Homo sapiens: one gene and its partners. The protein of the gene in region 3 interacts with the protein of the main gene of each other region in a pairwise test. Each region holds a gene or a part of one and is shown on either strand. Other genes may lie near its edges.

The links.
Region 1: the proteins of FEZ1 (region 3) and BRD1 interact in a two-hybrid assay, tested with the Homo sapiens proteins (one study listed by BioGRID).
Region 2: the proteins of FEZ1 (region 3) and PCNT interact in a two-hybrid assay, tested with the Homo sapiens proteins (one large-scale study listed by BioGRID and IntAct).
Region 4: the proteins of FEZ1 (region 3) and PDCD7 interact in a two-hybrid assay, tested with the Homo sapiens proteins (2 studies listed by BioGRID and IntAct).

What each region holds. Positions count from the first base shown.
Region 1 is NC_000022.11:49,817,874-49,821,668, forward strand, and holds part of BRD1 (bromodomain-containing protein 1), read right to left. Parts: intron 3,114-3,795; exon of another isoform or gene 2,961-3,113; intron 511-2,960; coding exon of another isoform or gene 349-510; intron 1-348. UniProt on the Homo sapiens protein: Scaffold subunit of various histone acetyltransferase (HAT) complexes, such as the MOZ/MORF and HBO1 complexes, that acts as a regulator of hematopoiesis.
Region 2 is NC_000021.9:46,330,361-46,334,155, reverse strand, and holds part of PCNT (pericentrin), read right to left. Parts: intron 1-3,795. UniProt on the Homo sapiens protein: Integral component of the filamentous matrix of the centrosome involved in the initial establishment of organized microtubule arrays in both mitosis and meiosis. Plays a role, together with DISC1, in the microtubule network formation.
Region 3 is NC_000011.10:125,489,501-125,493,590, forward strand, and holds part of FEZ1 (fasciculation and elongation protein zeta-1), read right to left. Parts: intron 323-4,090; 5' UTR 278-322; coding exon 1-277. UniProt on the Homo sapiens protein: May be involved in axonal outgrowth as component of the network of molecules that regulate cellular morphology and axon guidance machinery.
Region 4 is NC_000015.10:65,116,879-65,120,638, forward strand, and holds the end of PDCD7 (programmed cell death protein 7), read right to left. Parts: intron 3,077-3,760; coding exon 2,840-3,076; intron 2,586-2,839; coding exon 2,498-2,585; intron 1,963-2,497; coding exon 1,839-1,962; 3' UTR 501-1,838; downstream 1-500. UniProt on the Homo sapiens protein: Promotes apoptosis when overexpressed.

The sequences.
Region 1 (3,795 bases), on a different chromosome or scaffold from region 3:
GATCACAACTCACTGCAGCCTCGACCTCCTGGGCTCAAGCAATCCACCCACCTCAGCCTTCCAGTGTTAGGATTACTAGCCTGAGCCACCGCACCCAGTCAACTTTTCTAACAGCTCAAGTCACTCTAATTTAAATGCATGAGGAGAATATCTAGGTATTTAAAGTTCGCCACGTATTTTCACCTGAGTGATGCTTCCCTTCCTAAGGCTGACCAAGACCAGTTCATCCTTTTAAACTCAAAATAAAATGACACCAGTGAAGGCGGGAGGAGCACCCTATCAGGGTGAAGGCGGGAGGAAAACCTCATTCGAATGAAGGTAGGAGGAGCACCCATCACAAAGCCTTGCCTATCTGAGGTTCTTGTCCGTGAGGCTGAAGTCCAGGCTCTCGTAGTAGAGGAGCTCCTCCTAGAAGATCTGAAGCAGTCAAAGGAACCAAACCGACACAGGCCGTCTGCCTGCTGATCACAGTCTCTTTTAAGACACTTTCTACTTTGCATTCTGATGAACCTAGGAGTTTTGTTAAACAGATTATGCGTGTATTTATCCCTCATTTCATGCAATAACCAAAAAGAGTTATCAGGAAACCCTGTTTGTCTTTTCACCCCATGTATGAACTCTCATGTGAATGAGTCCTGCAGTAATCCATGTTAAGGGAGCCCTAATTTCAAACTGGTGCAAATGGAAAAGACTTTCCCTTTTCCTTTAAGACTAAAGACAAAATGTCCTCCTGGCCGGGCTCGGTGGCTCACGCCTCTAATCCTAGCACTTTGGGAGGCAGAGGCAGATGGATCACGAGGTCAGGAAATCAAGACCATCCTGGCTAACATGGTGAAACCCCGTCTCTACTAAAAATACAAAAAATTAGCAGGTGTGGTGGTGGGCGCCTGTGGTCCCAGCTACTCAGGAGGCTGAGGCAGGAGAATGGCGTGAACCCGGGAGGTGGAGCTTGTAGTGAGCCGAGATCGTGCCACTGCGCTCCAGCCTAGGTGACAGAGCAAGACTCCGTCTCAAAAAAAAAATGTCATTCTATACAGGTGCAACTCAATCCGTTAATAAAAACTGATGTATGCTGGAGAGAGGAAGTGAAAAGAAAAAATAGGGCTGGGTGCGGTGGTTCACGCCTGTAATCTCAGCACTCTGGGAGGCCAAGGCAGGCAGATCACCTGAAGTCACGAGTTTGAGACCATCCTGGACAACATGGTGAAACCCCATCTCTACAAAAAAAATACAAAAATTAGCCAGACACCGTGGCACACACCTGTAGTCCCAGCTACTCGGGAGGCTGAGGAACGAGGATCGCTTGAACCTGGGAGGTGGAGGCTGCAGTGAGCCGAGATTATGCCATTGCACTCCAGCCTGGGCAACAGAGCGAGGCTTCATCTCAGGAAAAAAAAGAAGAACAGAAAAGAAAAAATAACAATAAATCAATGTAAGGCCAGGCATGGTGGCTCACGCCTGTAATCTCAGCACTTTGGGAGGCCGAGGCAGGCAGATTGCTTGACCCCATCTCACCAAAAAATAAAAACATTAGCAGGGCATGGTGGCACATGCCTGTGGTCCCAGCTACTCAAGAGGCTGAGGTGGGGGAGTCGCTTGAGCCCAGGAGGTCGAGGCTGTAGTGAGCCATAACCATGCCACTGCACCCGTCTGAGCAGAAGAGCAGGACTCTGTTCAGGAGATTCTCCTGCCTCAGCCTCCTGAATAGCTGGGATTACAGGCGCGCACCACCACGCCTGGCTAATTTTTATATTTTTAGTACAGATGGGTTTTCACCATGTTAGCCAGGCTGGTCTCGAACTCCTGACCTCGTGATCTACCCACCTCGGCCTCCCAAAGTGCTGGCATTACAGGTGTGAGCCACACACCCAGCCCTGCCTGTTTTTCAAAGTGTTTATTTACCGCTGTTATTATTTAATCATAGTATATCAAACTTACAAAAAAACAGATTATAACCTTAAAACTATCTCTTTTAGCCTGGCGCAGTGGCTCACGCCTGTAATCCCAGCACTTTGGGAGTTCGAGGCGGGTGGATCACCTGAGGTCAGCAGTTCAAGACCAGCCTGGCCAACATGGTGAAACCCCGTCTCTACTAAAAATACAAAAATCGGCCGGGTGTGGTGGCAGGTGCCTGTAATCCTAGCTACTCAGGAGGCTGAGGCAGGAGAATCACTTGAACCCAGGAGGTGGAGGTTGCAGTGAGCCAAGATCACCGCACTGCACTGCAGCCTGGGCAACAAAGCAAGACTCCACCTCAAAAAAAAGGGGGGAAAAAAAAGAACTATCTTTTTTACTTGAAATTTTAATTTTTTAAACCACTAGAATTATAAAAGCAGTCCGTCCCTGAAGGCAGATTCTGTTCTGTCCACAGGGAATAAGGAAGATCCTCTTTCTCTAAAATCTCTAAAACGCTGCTCAGATGGGGTCTCATCTCCCTTCCAGCGTGACTGGCTGGCCTGAAGCATAACATCCTCAGATGCTCTAGGTGGGTCCTACACCGGAGCCATTGGTTAGTGCACACCATAACCAACTAGACTCAGCATCCCCGCCCACGGCTGCACATCAAGAAGCTTCACCATGGGCCAGGCACAGTGGCTCGTGCCTGTATTCCCAGCTGAGGCTGGGAGGAGGCTGAGGCGGGAAGATCGCTTGAGTCCAAGAGTTTGAGGCTACTGTAAGCCATGATCACGCCACTGCACTCCAACGTGGGCAACAGAACAAGACCCTGTCTCTAAACATAAAATAAAAAATAAGAAGCTTCACCCTCATCTACACAGAATTCAAATGCACAGCTGAGGCCTCCTACATGCACCCAGGGGTAGTGCCCAGGGCCTAAGAACAGGGCTGCCAGATCAGCTGCCTCTCAGACCACAGCAAGGCAGTAAACCCGGTTTCAGGCAGCAGTCAGTACTGTATTGAGAGCCTGCCCCTCACAACCACCCCAGAGGTGGGTCCAGCACCATGGTGCCAACAGGCCAGGCGCACTGGGAGCTCCTCCACTGGTGGCAAGGTGGCCTGAAGCACCAGCATCTCCTGGAGACTGGGAAACCCAGACTGCAGAGACCGCGGCCAGGAACACTCGTCCAGGTTTGTTTCTCTCTCTCTACTCGAAGCTGAAATAATAGTTTATTCCCAAGTTAGGAAAAGAACAGAACCACACAGTACGCGGTTTAGCTCCAATACATGCTTTCAAATATTTAGGTCGAGTTTTCTTCTCAATCAGCCCTGGCCACTTCAGCCCCCATGTCCTGCATGCAAACACTGCCTCCTTCAGTCCTGCCTACCCAACATCAGGAGCCAAAGAACAGAGAGCGTGCGGCCCGGCCAGGCCCGGCCTCTCCCAGAGCAGGTCATCATCTGGTACTGGCCAGGGAAGGGAGCACTTCAGACTTTTGGCTCTTCATTTTGTTAGATCACATTTTGTTTATTTTGCTTCAATTTCAGTAAAGCTGAAATTTTTAGACCTCTTATACAGAAGCTCTTAATACAAACCCTAGACTTTTTGACTCATAGGTAGAAATCCAAGCAAAACCATCTCTTCAAAGTCAGATTAATTTACAAAGACAAACACCTTGGTTTTGACAGGGTTTTCCCTGGATGGGAAGGATTATGAGCATTTTTTGTTCATTCTGTCTGAATTGACTAATTATCTGAGTATTTACAGCTCTGTGAAAAGAAACTGGACTTCACTTTGGTAAAGTAGAGTAATATTAACAAAAATCACTTAAAACTTCTTTTTTTTTTTTTGAGACACAGTTTCACTCTGTCACGCAGGCTGCGGTACAGTAGCACAAT
Region 2 (3,795 bases), on a different chromosome or scaffold from region 3:
TCAGCTCACTGCAATCTCCGCCTCCTGGGTTCACGCCATTCCCCTGCCTCAGCCTCCCTAGTAGCTGGGACTATGGGTGCCCGCCACCACGCCCAGCTAATTTTTGTATTTTTAGTAGAGACAGGGTTTCACCATGTTAGCCAAGATGGTCTTGATCTCCTGACCTCGTGATCCGCCCGCCTTGGCCTCCCAAAGTGCTGGGATTACAGGCATGAGCCACCACACCTGGCCAGCTCTAAACATTTTTATAATGCAAGTAATTTCCCTAATGATGTTCCTGCCCCTCTTCTTAATGAATTCTACTTTTTTTTTTTTTTTTGAGACGGAGTCTTGCTCTGTTGCCAGGCTGCAATGCAGTTGCACGAACTCGGCTCACTGAAACCTCCACCTCCTGGGTTCAAGTGATTCTCCTGTCTCAACCTCCCGGGGGTTTCACCATGTTGGCCAGACTGGTCTTGAACTCCTGACCTCAGGTGATCCACCCGCCTCGGCCTCCCCAAGTGCTGGGATTACAGGTGTGAGTAACCGTGCCCAGCCTGTAATTTTTTTTTTTTTTTGAGACAAAGTTTCACTCCGTCGCCCAGGCTGGTGGCATGACCTCGGCTCACTGCAACCTCCGCCTCCGGGTTCAAACAATTCTCCTGCCTCAGCCTCCCGAGTAGCTGGGACTACAGGCGCATGCCACCACGCCCGGCTAATTTTTTTTTTCTTTTTTGTCTTTTTTGAGACGAAGTCTCACTCTGTCACCCAGGCTGGAGTGCAGTGGCACAATCTCAGCTCACTGTAAGCTCTGCCTCCCGGGTTCACGCCATTCTCCTGCCTCAGCCTCCTGAGTAGCTGGGACTACAGGCGCGTGCCACCATGCCCAGCTAATTTTTGTATTTTTAGTAGAATCGGGGTTTCACCATGTTGACCAGGATGGTCTCAATCTCTTGACCTTGTGATCTGCCCAACTCGGCCTCCCAAAGTGCTGGGATTACAGGTGTGAGTCACTGCGCCCGGCCATGAATTCTACTTTAAAAAAGAAATTTAATTAATTTTTTGAGACAAGGTCTTGCTCTGTCACCCAGGCTGGCGTGCAGTGGTGCAATCCCAGCTCACTGCAACCTTAACCTCCTGGGCTCAAGTGATCCTCCTGCCTCAGCCACCTGAGTAGCTGGAACTACTGGCATGCGCCACTGTGCCCAGCTTATTTTTTATTTTTTTGTAGAGACAGGGTCTCTGTTCATTATGTTCCAAAGCTGGCCTCAAAATCCTGGGCTCAAGCAATCCTCCCACCTCAGCATCCCAAAATGCTGGCAATACAGGCATGAGCCACAGTGCCCAGATTAGCTTGCTTTAACAAGATGATTCACTAAGAACATTTCAATTTCTTCCCAAAATAGCAAAGAAACATGACAGTGTCGACTTTTCGGGATCATTAGATGAGTCACAAGATGAATGCAGAGAGAGAGCACCCATGGCCAATGATGATGGCAAAACTGACGTGAAAATAAAATCTCAGACAAGTCTTCATTTGACAATACCCTAGATCAATCTTCTCAGAATCAAGAGGAAGTGAGGGACGAAAAGGGGACACAGTAGTCTCAATCAGCTGCCCGCTCACATGAATGATCACACTTCAAAGGAACCTGGACCATCCACTTCCTTAAGAGGACACTTCTAATGTTTGTGTGTCAAAACTTACTTGATACAAAGAGGTTGGATCAAATTTCTTATAAAGTTGTTTTAAATTATTGCTTTATTCTTACTTCTGTAAATTACGTGTAAAACAACTTAAAATGACAAAACAGTAAAACGGCCCAGAAATCTAGATGATAAATGGTGATAACTATTTTTCCTGGTATTTGATACAAATATGAGTTGGAAAAGTGCTAGAACCACACTTCTTAAGCCTTCTATAGCACTAGTTAAATCTTCTTCAGCCAAAGTTTTTGTATTTTCTTCTGAAATTCTTGACCTCTGAGCAATTTTTGGATGGTTCTCTTTTTTTTGGAGATAAAGTCTCGCTCTTGTCCTCCAGGCTGGAGTGCAATGGCGCGATCTCGGCTCAGTGCAACCTCTGCCTCCCGGGTTCAAGTGATTCTCCTGCCTCAGCCTCCCGAGTACCTGGGATTACAGGCGCCTGCCATGAGACCCGGCTAATTTTTGTATTTTTAGTAGAGATGGGGTTTCACCACGTTGGCCAGGCTGGTCTCGAACTCCTGACCTCAGGTGATCTTCCTGCCTTGGCCTCCCAAAGTGCTGGGATTACAGGCATGAGCCAATGCGTCCCGCCAGATGGTTCTTTTACCAAAAAATGGCCTCTCCTCACTTTGTTCCTCATCTGTAACTGAAAGGTCAAATTCTGCTTTCTACCATTGCTTTATTTTTATGATTTTTTTTTTTTTGAGACAAGGCCTTGCTCTGCCGCCCAGGCTGGCGTGCAGTGGTGCCACCATAGCTCACTGTAGCCTCAAACTCCTGGGCGCAGGTGATCCTCCCAACTCAGCCTCCTGAGTAACTGGGACTACACGTGTGCACTGTCATGCCCAGCTAATTTTTATATTTTTCATAGAGACAGAGTTTCAACCATCCTCCCACGTTGGCCTCCCAAAGTGCTCGGAGCCACCATGCCTGACCTTGCTTTCTGCCATTTCTGAGTTAACTTTCAGAACTGAGACAGCTGTTGCATTGTTTCAACTATTTTTCCATCATGCACTTAACAAATTGTAAGGCAACAGAGCCGAATCCTGAATATTTACCACAAAGTCTTTCTGCAATTCTACCTTCGCTTATAACCATCCTGAAAAAAAACTAAGATCTTAAAGTTGGTTAAAAATATGTCTTATATCAGCTGGGCACAGCGGCTTATGCCTGTAATCCCAGCACTTTGGGAGGCCGAGGTGGGAGGATCACCTGAGTCAGGGAGGTCAAGGCTGAAGTAAGCTGATTGGGCCACTGCACTCCAGCCTGGGCGCCAGAGGGAGGACCTGTCTCCAAAAAAAAGAAAAAAGACTTATGCTAGAAATCATCAGTATTTACCTAACAGTTAGTGATCAAAGTAAGCAATTTATTATATGTTGGAAAGCACAATAACTTCTCCCTCCCCCTCACACACACATACACACACTCTCACACACACACAAACACACACACTTATCTTCTTATGCTGTTCAATAAGCTCACTAGACTCTCCATAGCCAAACCTCTCACAATTTATAGATGGGTAAAATAAAACAAATGCACCTTTCATTATGTTTAAAGCACTGGTACAACTATAACATAAAGGTTCCTTGAGGATTCCTGATCTCCGACGCAGCATGACCAACCATCTGAGAGGGGAGTGCCCTGGCCTGGGACATTATTCGGCCACACGGCCACCAGCTGCTAGCTTTAAACAGTGGACTCTTTCCTAGAATTTCACTTTTCAGAAGATCATTATTTTGAACACAAAATTACTCCTATTTTAACATCTACAACTGGATTAAAGGCATACTAAACTCAAATATCATGAAATATTTTATAATACATATGAAAAAAACTCCTTTTTAGACTGAACTGATGATGTACAATGATATAATCAGAAAAAAGTTAATGAAATATCTGCTTCTAAAGCACCAATGGTTTTTATATACATAATTGACAAAATGGCTTAAGAAATTTGATTCCTAACTTAGTGTACAGCAGAAAGACAATGGCTCTATTCTACACATACTACTTAGTTTACCTATACATGTATAAAGAAAATAAATTTTAGCCAGGTGGGATGGCTCACACCTATAATTCCAGCACTTTGGGAGGCCGAGGTGGGAG
Region 3 (4,090 bases):
TCTGTAACTGGTTCTTCACGGGAGCTAGGTTCTCGGTCTTGGCGTTGTAGTTCCGAAAGCAGACATTGAGCTTCTCATCAAATTCATTTACGAGGTCCTCCATGGACTTGAAGCTGATTATTTCGGAAGAAAAATTCTCAAGCTCGGAGAGGGAGGGGTCCTCGAGATGGTGGGGAGATGAACCATAGAAACACTGGGGCTTCTCCTCCGGGTCCTCCGAGCAGGAGGGTCGAAGGTCCTCAAACTCTTCATCCAGACTCACCAGTGGGGCCTCCATTCTTGCTCAGCAGGAGAACAACAGCGACTTTCAGGATGAGTTTATCTAAAAGAAATGAACAGCGTAATGTGAGTTTAGACCAGGCTAATCTAAATAATAGAGTTAACTTTAGAGACACACCTGCTTCCAATTCCCTACTCCAAAAAACAAGGCACTGGTTAAGTACGAAGCTCCTGGACAAGATCGTCTAGGTTTGCATTCTGTTCTGTCCTACCAGCTGTGACCTTGGGCAAGTGATTAATTGCTCTGTGCTTCTTATTCTTCTCAAGACAGATATAATACTGAACCCACCTCAAAGGGCTGTTAGAAGACTAAAGGAGTAAACACAGGTGAGTGCTTAAAACAGTACCTGGAAGATAATAAGTGCCAATATTATTGAATACTTTCTGTTGGTGTTTTAGTATTATTATTTTTATTACTATTACTATTACCACAGATCCATATCCTTAACTATGTGATCTGAAAGCTGAAAATTCTCCATGACTTGTTTGGCAGCAAAATGTGACATGATCTAAACTCATCTGGCAACTAAACATGACCAACATGAATATAAAGCTGTTCATGGCTTTAATTTATCCCATTTTGTGTGTTTTGCTGCAGAAATATTAACTTTTTAATTACAAAGATTGCTATCCCAGATCCCACTGGATGAAATGCGGAATGTACACTCTATTACTACTTTCCAAAATCTGAAATAATCTGAATTCCAAATGCCTGGCCCCAGGGGTTTTGGATAAGGGTTTGTATACCTAGATATTACTACCCTTATCAATAAATAGTAGAAACTAATAAAACATTGGCTGGATGTGGTGGCTCATGCTTGTAATCCCAGCACTTTGGGAGGTTGAGGTGGGAGGATCATTTGAGCTCACTCAGGAGTTCAAGACCAGCCTGGGCAACATAGTAAGGTCCCATCTCTATTTTTATTTTTTTAAAAAAACTAATAAAACATCAATAGAGACCTTCCAATAAATGCCTGAGTTGTTTTTGTTTCGTTTCGCTTTTGAGACATAGCTTCACTCTGTGGCCCAGGCTGGAGTGCAGTGGTGTGATCTCAGCTCACTGCAACCTACACCTCTGGGTTCCACCAATCCTCATGCCTTGGCCTCCCAAGTAGCTGCGTGTGCCACCACACCCAGCTAATTTTTGTATTATTAGTAGAGATGGGGTTTCACCATGTTGGCCAGGCTGGTCTCGAACTCCTGACCTCAGGTGATCTACCTGCCTCAGCCTCCCAAAGTTCTGGGATTACAGGCATGAGCCACCGTGCCCAGACAAGCACCCAAGGTTTTCCCACACATAGAGCATATGCCTAGGAGCAGAGGAATAGACTAAATGATCTATTATCCTGTATCCTGTAAGAAACAGACCCAACTACCCATGTGCTCCAAAGCCATACTCCATAACCATCTTGGGCACTGCACCCTGGAACGCTGCACACACAGAACTCCCTTCAGTTCCCACCAACTGTGGGACCTCTACCCCTCATCGGGCCATCTTCATGCACTGCTTCCAACTGTGATTTATCCATCTGTGTGTACATCTGGGCCCCATTCAATTTTAACTTAAATTCCTCGAGGACACAGAAATCCTCTGGATATCTTCCCTGGCTCCAAATATACACTGCCTACCCTGTGGCTAGGCAGTCAATCAATATGTGCTCGTTGAAAAAATGATCTATCTCCCACATACAGTTTTCCATTTTCAGTTTCAGGCAGCACAAGCATTGCTGACTATCATACCCTTCTCTACACGCTCAACAGAAAGGCTACCAAGCTTTTCTCTTCGGTCTATAGGGTTATTGATATAGTTAGGTGCTCAAATTGGAGGCGCTTCCTGAGGGGAACCAGACAGCAAAATTCATGGATTTTGCCCTAGGAGTGCCCATTCTCCATCTCTACCTACAAAACTAAAACTCTAAATAAGCAAGGCAAAGGACATGCCAGGCAAGAACACTGCCAGTTTGTACCGGGATTTTGCTGGGATTAAGTTGATTACCGTTGCTTTAAAACATATTTGGAGCATTTACAGTTTGCAAAGGCAACATGATAGGACCTTTGAATACAAAAATATATACAAGTAGTACCATATCTTGGAAAGAAGACAGGCTCGAGAGCCAACAGATCTGCCAATGGCTGGCTGAGTGACAAGCATCATTGGTCCTGATTTCCTCATTTGTTATAAGGAAGGTGTTGGTACAGAGTTAACATCTTTAGGAGTTATTTTTAATAAATCAATAATTTAATTAATCATTTTGATTGAAGTAATATGTTTATTTAATCCAATATATCCAAAGTGTTACCATTTCAAAATGTAATCCACAAAAAAACTAATGAGGCAGTTTTTATTCTTTTTTTATACTAAGCCCTTTGAAATCCAGTGTATATTTTCCATTTACAGTACATCTCACTTTGGACTAGCCACATTGCAAGTGCTCAACAGTCAAATGTGGCCTGTGGCTACCGCAAGGGACAACACAGCTCTAAAGCAAACACAAGTAATTGCCAGTCAGGGGTTCTTCATCTTCAGTACATAGACCCCTGCAGGCTCTTTGAAGGTAACTATATTTCAATGAAATTGGTTTCCTTTACAAGACTAAGTATTTTATTTTATGCATTTAAAAACATTATTTGGAGAAGGAGCCCACAGGCTTCTCCATACCACCAAAGGAGGTCATAGTGCAAAAAAGATTAAGAATCCCTGAGCAACAAAAAAGTGAGATTAGAAAAGATGGCAGAATGCAGTAGAGAGTAAAACAGTTTTCACAGCCCAGGGATTTGTGTTGATTAAGGCAGTACTCTGTGATGGCTAAGAGCATAGGCTTTGGGTTCCTGTCCTGGTCCTGTCACTCCTAGTTGGGAGACTTTGGGCAAGTTATCAACCTCACTGTGCCTCAATTTCATCATCTATAAAATGGAGTTTAAAACAGTGCTTCCCTTGAAGATTACTTTTTGGACTAAATGAGATCATCTTTGAAGTGTTAAGTACAATGTGCAGAATATAGAAAGCATCCAATAAATATCAATCATTCTAGAAAAATCAAAGCTGGGCACGGTGGCTCACACCTGTAATCCCAGCAACTGGAGAGGCTGAGGCAGGAGGATTGGTTGAGCCCATGAGTTTGAGGCTATAGTGAGCTATGATCACACTACTGTATGCCAGCCTGGGTGACAAAGTGAGACCCTATCTTTAAAAAAAAAAAAAAAAAAGTTAAAAATAATTCTAGGAAAACCAGGATAGCTAACTTACATAGAAATGTGATGTGGGGGCTGGGCACAGTGGCTCATGCCTGTAATCCCAGCACTTTGGGAGGCTGAGGTGCGTGGATCACCTGAGGTCAGGAGTTCAAGACCAGCCTGGCCAACATGGCAAAACCCTGTCTCTACTAAAAATACAAAAAAAAAAAATTAGCTGAGCATGGTGGCAGGTGCCTGTAATCCCAGCTACTTGGGAGGCTGAGGCAGGAGAATCGCTTGAGCCCAAGAGGCAGAGGTTGCAGTGAGCCGAGATCATGCCATTGCACTCCAGCCTGGGCAACAAGAGCGAAACTCCATCTCAAGAAAGAAAGAAAGAAAGAAAGAGAGAAAAGAAAGAAAGAAAGAAAGAAAGAAAGAAAGAAAGAAAGAAAGAAAGAAAGAAAGAAAGAAGGAAAGAAGGAAAGAAGGAAAGAAGGAAAGAAGGAAAGAAGGAAAGAAGGAAAGAAGGAAAGAAGGAAAGAAAGAAAGAAAGAGAGAAAGAAAGAAAGAAAGAAAGAAAGAAAGAAAGAAAGAAAGAAAGGTGATGTGGGAGTGCTTCAAGTAAAAGAAAAATTAT
Region 4 (3,760 bases), on a different chromosome or scaffold from region 3:
AGGCTGTCCAGACACCAAACACACATCGTACAATTCACCTTATTTCTACTCTTCCTGCATCTCATCAGAGAGCAAATGGTGGAGATATCTAACAAAAAGGCACACAGGATTGTGGAGCTCTATGAGGGTAATCATATCAGATTTTAAGATTTATAAGCGTAGACATACATTTTGGAGACATGTGGCCCTCATTCCCTATCTGTTGACTCTATATAATGTATAAATTAATGCAAATTAAACAACAGAAAAGGGACAAAGCCATTAGTATCTTGCACCCAAAAGCTTCCAACTACAGTACGTAACATTATTTCCAAAATTGATGGTATCCTTACCAATCCAGACTTGGATTTTGCAGATAAAGTTTAGCATTTAAGATTCAAATTCCTGTAACAAATGCCTGCTTAATAAATTTGAATTTTTGAATGAAAATATGTTTCATCAATGTGAAAGTGTGTGTTAAGTGATTTGGAAGGCAACAAATTGGCAGCAAAGGCACAAACTAAAAAATAAAAATGATTTTTATTTAGTTTTTTGGAAATATAACAAAATAATTGGCAAAAACCAAACCAAAACAGAACCAAAAAAATGACATGTTATATGAGTGATCATCTCCAAGCACAACAGCATTTATTAATGAATATAAAAAATAAATTTTACTTTTTTTTTTTTTGAGACGGAGTCTTGCTCTGTCTCCCAGGCTGGAGTGCCGTGGCGCGATCTCGGCTCACTGCAAGCTCTGCCTCCTGGGTTTTACACCATTCTCCTGCCTCAGCCTCCCCAGTAGCTGGGACTACAGGTGTGCACCACCTACGCCCAGCTAATATTTTTTTGTATTTTTAGTAGAGACAGGGTTTCACCGTGTTAGCCAGGATGGCCTTGATCTCCTGACCTCGTGATCGGCCCGCCTCGGCCTCCCAAAGTGTTGGGATTACAGGCGTGAGCCACTGTGCCCGGCCAAATTTTACTATTTTTATTTGCTTTTTCCCCTAGATTTGACTACATGGATAGTTTTAGAAGCTTGAGTTCCTAAGATAATTCCATAGCTACACTGGCTCCTACAATGTGACTGAGTGAGGTTAGGGAAATATCCTTGGGGATTCTGAACAACTAGACCCTTAGAAACTTAAAAATAACAGGTGCTTTCATTAGGATCCTTCTAACATGGAAAAAATACAGCCATTGTCCATTAAAATACAATCCAATTTGGGTACTCTTCAGGTTTTCTAAGTTCTCCATCTGAATAATAAGACTAGGCCACCATCTTTTCTGGCAACCCAGCCTACAGCCACTGCCATCTTCCTAACTAGCAGCCTCCTAAGCTGCACTAAAACTGGGATTAACACAACTGAAGATAACATTTTTGACCTTTCTTCCTAGAAGTCAAAGGGCTCTTCAGGTAGGAAAGGTCAGGAGGTTTTGCATCAAGCTTGCCTTCACACTCACTATTAGTAGAAGGGCTGTGAAATCTACCCATCACACACCTGTATTCAGTGTTTGAGTGTACTTACCCATCAACACACAAGGAAGTTAGAGTAAATTAACAAGTCACTCTGGACCAAGCCCCTCAAAACAGAGGCAAATTTGGTGAACCAAGGTCATTCACTGCCTGTGGTAAAAACCTCAGTTCACCTAAGTCCTTTCCTGAAAAACCACATTAATCTGATTCAAGAGGCACCTCTGGCCAGCACAGAGCACAGAAGGAAAGCATAACTTCAGGGTAGGGGAATGCCACATGGAATTTAGAAGTTGCAGTTTAGTCTACAGCAAAAGATGGCACCATCGCTAATATTTACAGCTGGAAAGAGCGCTGGCTGGACCACACTCCTGGAGCATCTTTACTAATGCAGCTTAACAGCAGTTGCCCAGATGTCGTTGCTGGGGAGCGGGGGAAGGACCCATCCTTGGGGAACGAAGTTGCCTTTGGGATGATCGGATGGCACCAGGTACTGATCCCAATCATGCCTTAATAAGAACATTATAGAACAACTATTTATTTCTGTTTTATTCCAAATAAGATGTTCAGCAACTACATATTCTAAGACTTAGCTTTCAAATGACTGATATACTAATCTATTACAGAACTTGATTTCTAGGAATCAAGAAAATGACTATATTTCTTAAATGTACATATAAAAAGAGGAAAAACTCTGAAGAACTTAAACCTTATGGATAACCAAATAACAAATAAAGTCAATCCTCATTATTTACAGATTCTGTATTTGCATATGTGCCTACTAACACAGGGCAAGTCACAACCTGAGTTTTTTTCTTCACCTATAAAAATAGGGACATCAACTTCTCAAGGACTAATGAGGACTAAACAAGATGTATGCAGCATCCTTGAAACATGGAAACATTATAAACCCATAGTTTTTTTTAAGTTCCTTATGGAACTTAAAAAAAAAAAGACAGTAATAGACCTAAACAATGTAAGCACTTCTTCAAGTGCTTCCTGCTACCTAAGAGAAAGACAACATGGAGAGCCAGCCCCTCTGACCTGATCTGGATGAGCGCTGGCAGGGAGTGCTCGGCTTGGAGATAATACTGTCGGAAAGGCTCCAAGAGGTGAGCAAGTGGGAACTCATCTGAAAGAGAAAAGCACAATACCACGTTATCATGCTTGATATCCACAGTGTATTTCTCAAGGCAAGGTGACTGAGCCTATGATTACGACAGAATGAGAAAATGTGTTCTATCTGTATCCATGAGTTCTATGACACAGAATTGCATCTGGAAGGTGTCATTTGTTGCCTACCACCTCTTAGCTTGAGATCACCCGTGATGAGAAGAGCGTCAATCTAGTATTTTCATTTTCTCCACTGGTTATAGAGCAACATACCTGGATCCCCAAACAACTTGGACTCAATTTCACGTTTCTGAAGTAAAATTTTCTCTTTTTCTTTTCTTTGTTTCTTTTCTAATTCTCTTTTCCTCTCTTCCTCTTGTTCTCCTTCTAGCATAACTCTGAGGGCTCTCTCTTCAGCTTCATACAGTTCAGAGCGCTTTTTAATGAGTTTTCTCAGTCGCTGAAGATGATGCGTAAAAGTCTCATCTGCTGAGGCTGGAGGACAGACCCCTGGGCAGACAGGACAAAATGGCATTTTATTTATTTTTTTTTTTGAGACAAGGCCTCGCTCTAACACCCAGGCTGGAGTACAGTGGTGTGATCATAGCTCACTGCAACTTCAAACTCCTGGGCTCAACCCATCCTCCCACCTTGGCTTCCCAAGTAGCTACAAGTACAAGTGTGCACCACCATGCCTGGCTTTTTTTTATTTTTTATTTTTTATTTTCAGATAGGGTCTCACTCTGTTGTGCAGGCTGGAGTGCGGCAGCATGACCACGACTCACTGCAGCCTCGACCTCCTGGGCCCGAGATCCTCCCACCTCAGCCTCCCAAGTAGCTGGGACCACAGGCACGTGCCACCACATCTAGCCAATTTTTTTTTTATTTTTGTAGAGACAGGGTATCCCTGTGTTTCTCAAGCTGGTCTTAAACTCCTGGTCAAGCAATCCCCCTGCCTTGGCCTCCCTAAGTGCTGGGATTACAGGCATGAGCCACTGTGCCTGGCCCTACCTACTAATTTGTAAATTTTTTGTATGAGGTCTCACGAGGTCAGGAGATTGAGAACATCCTGGCTAACACGGTGAAACCCCGTCTCTACTAAAAATACAAAAAATTAGCCAGGCATGGTGGCAGGTACCTGTAGTCCCAGCTACTCGGGAGGCTGAGACAGGAGAATGGCGTGAACCTGGGAGG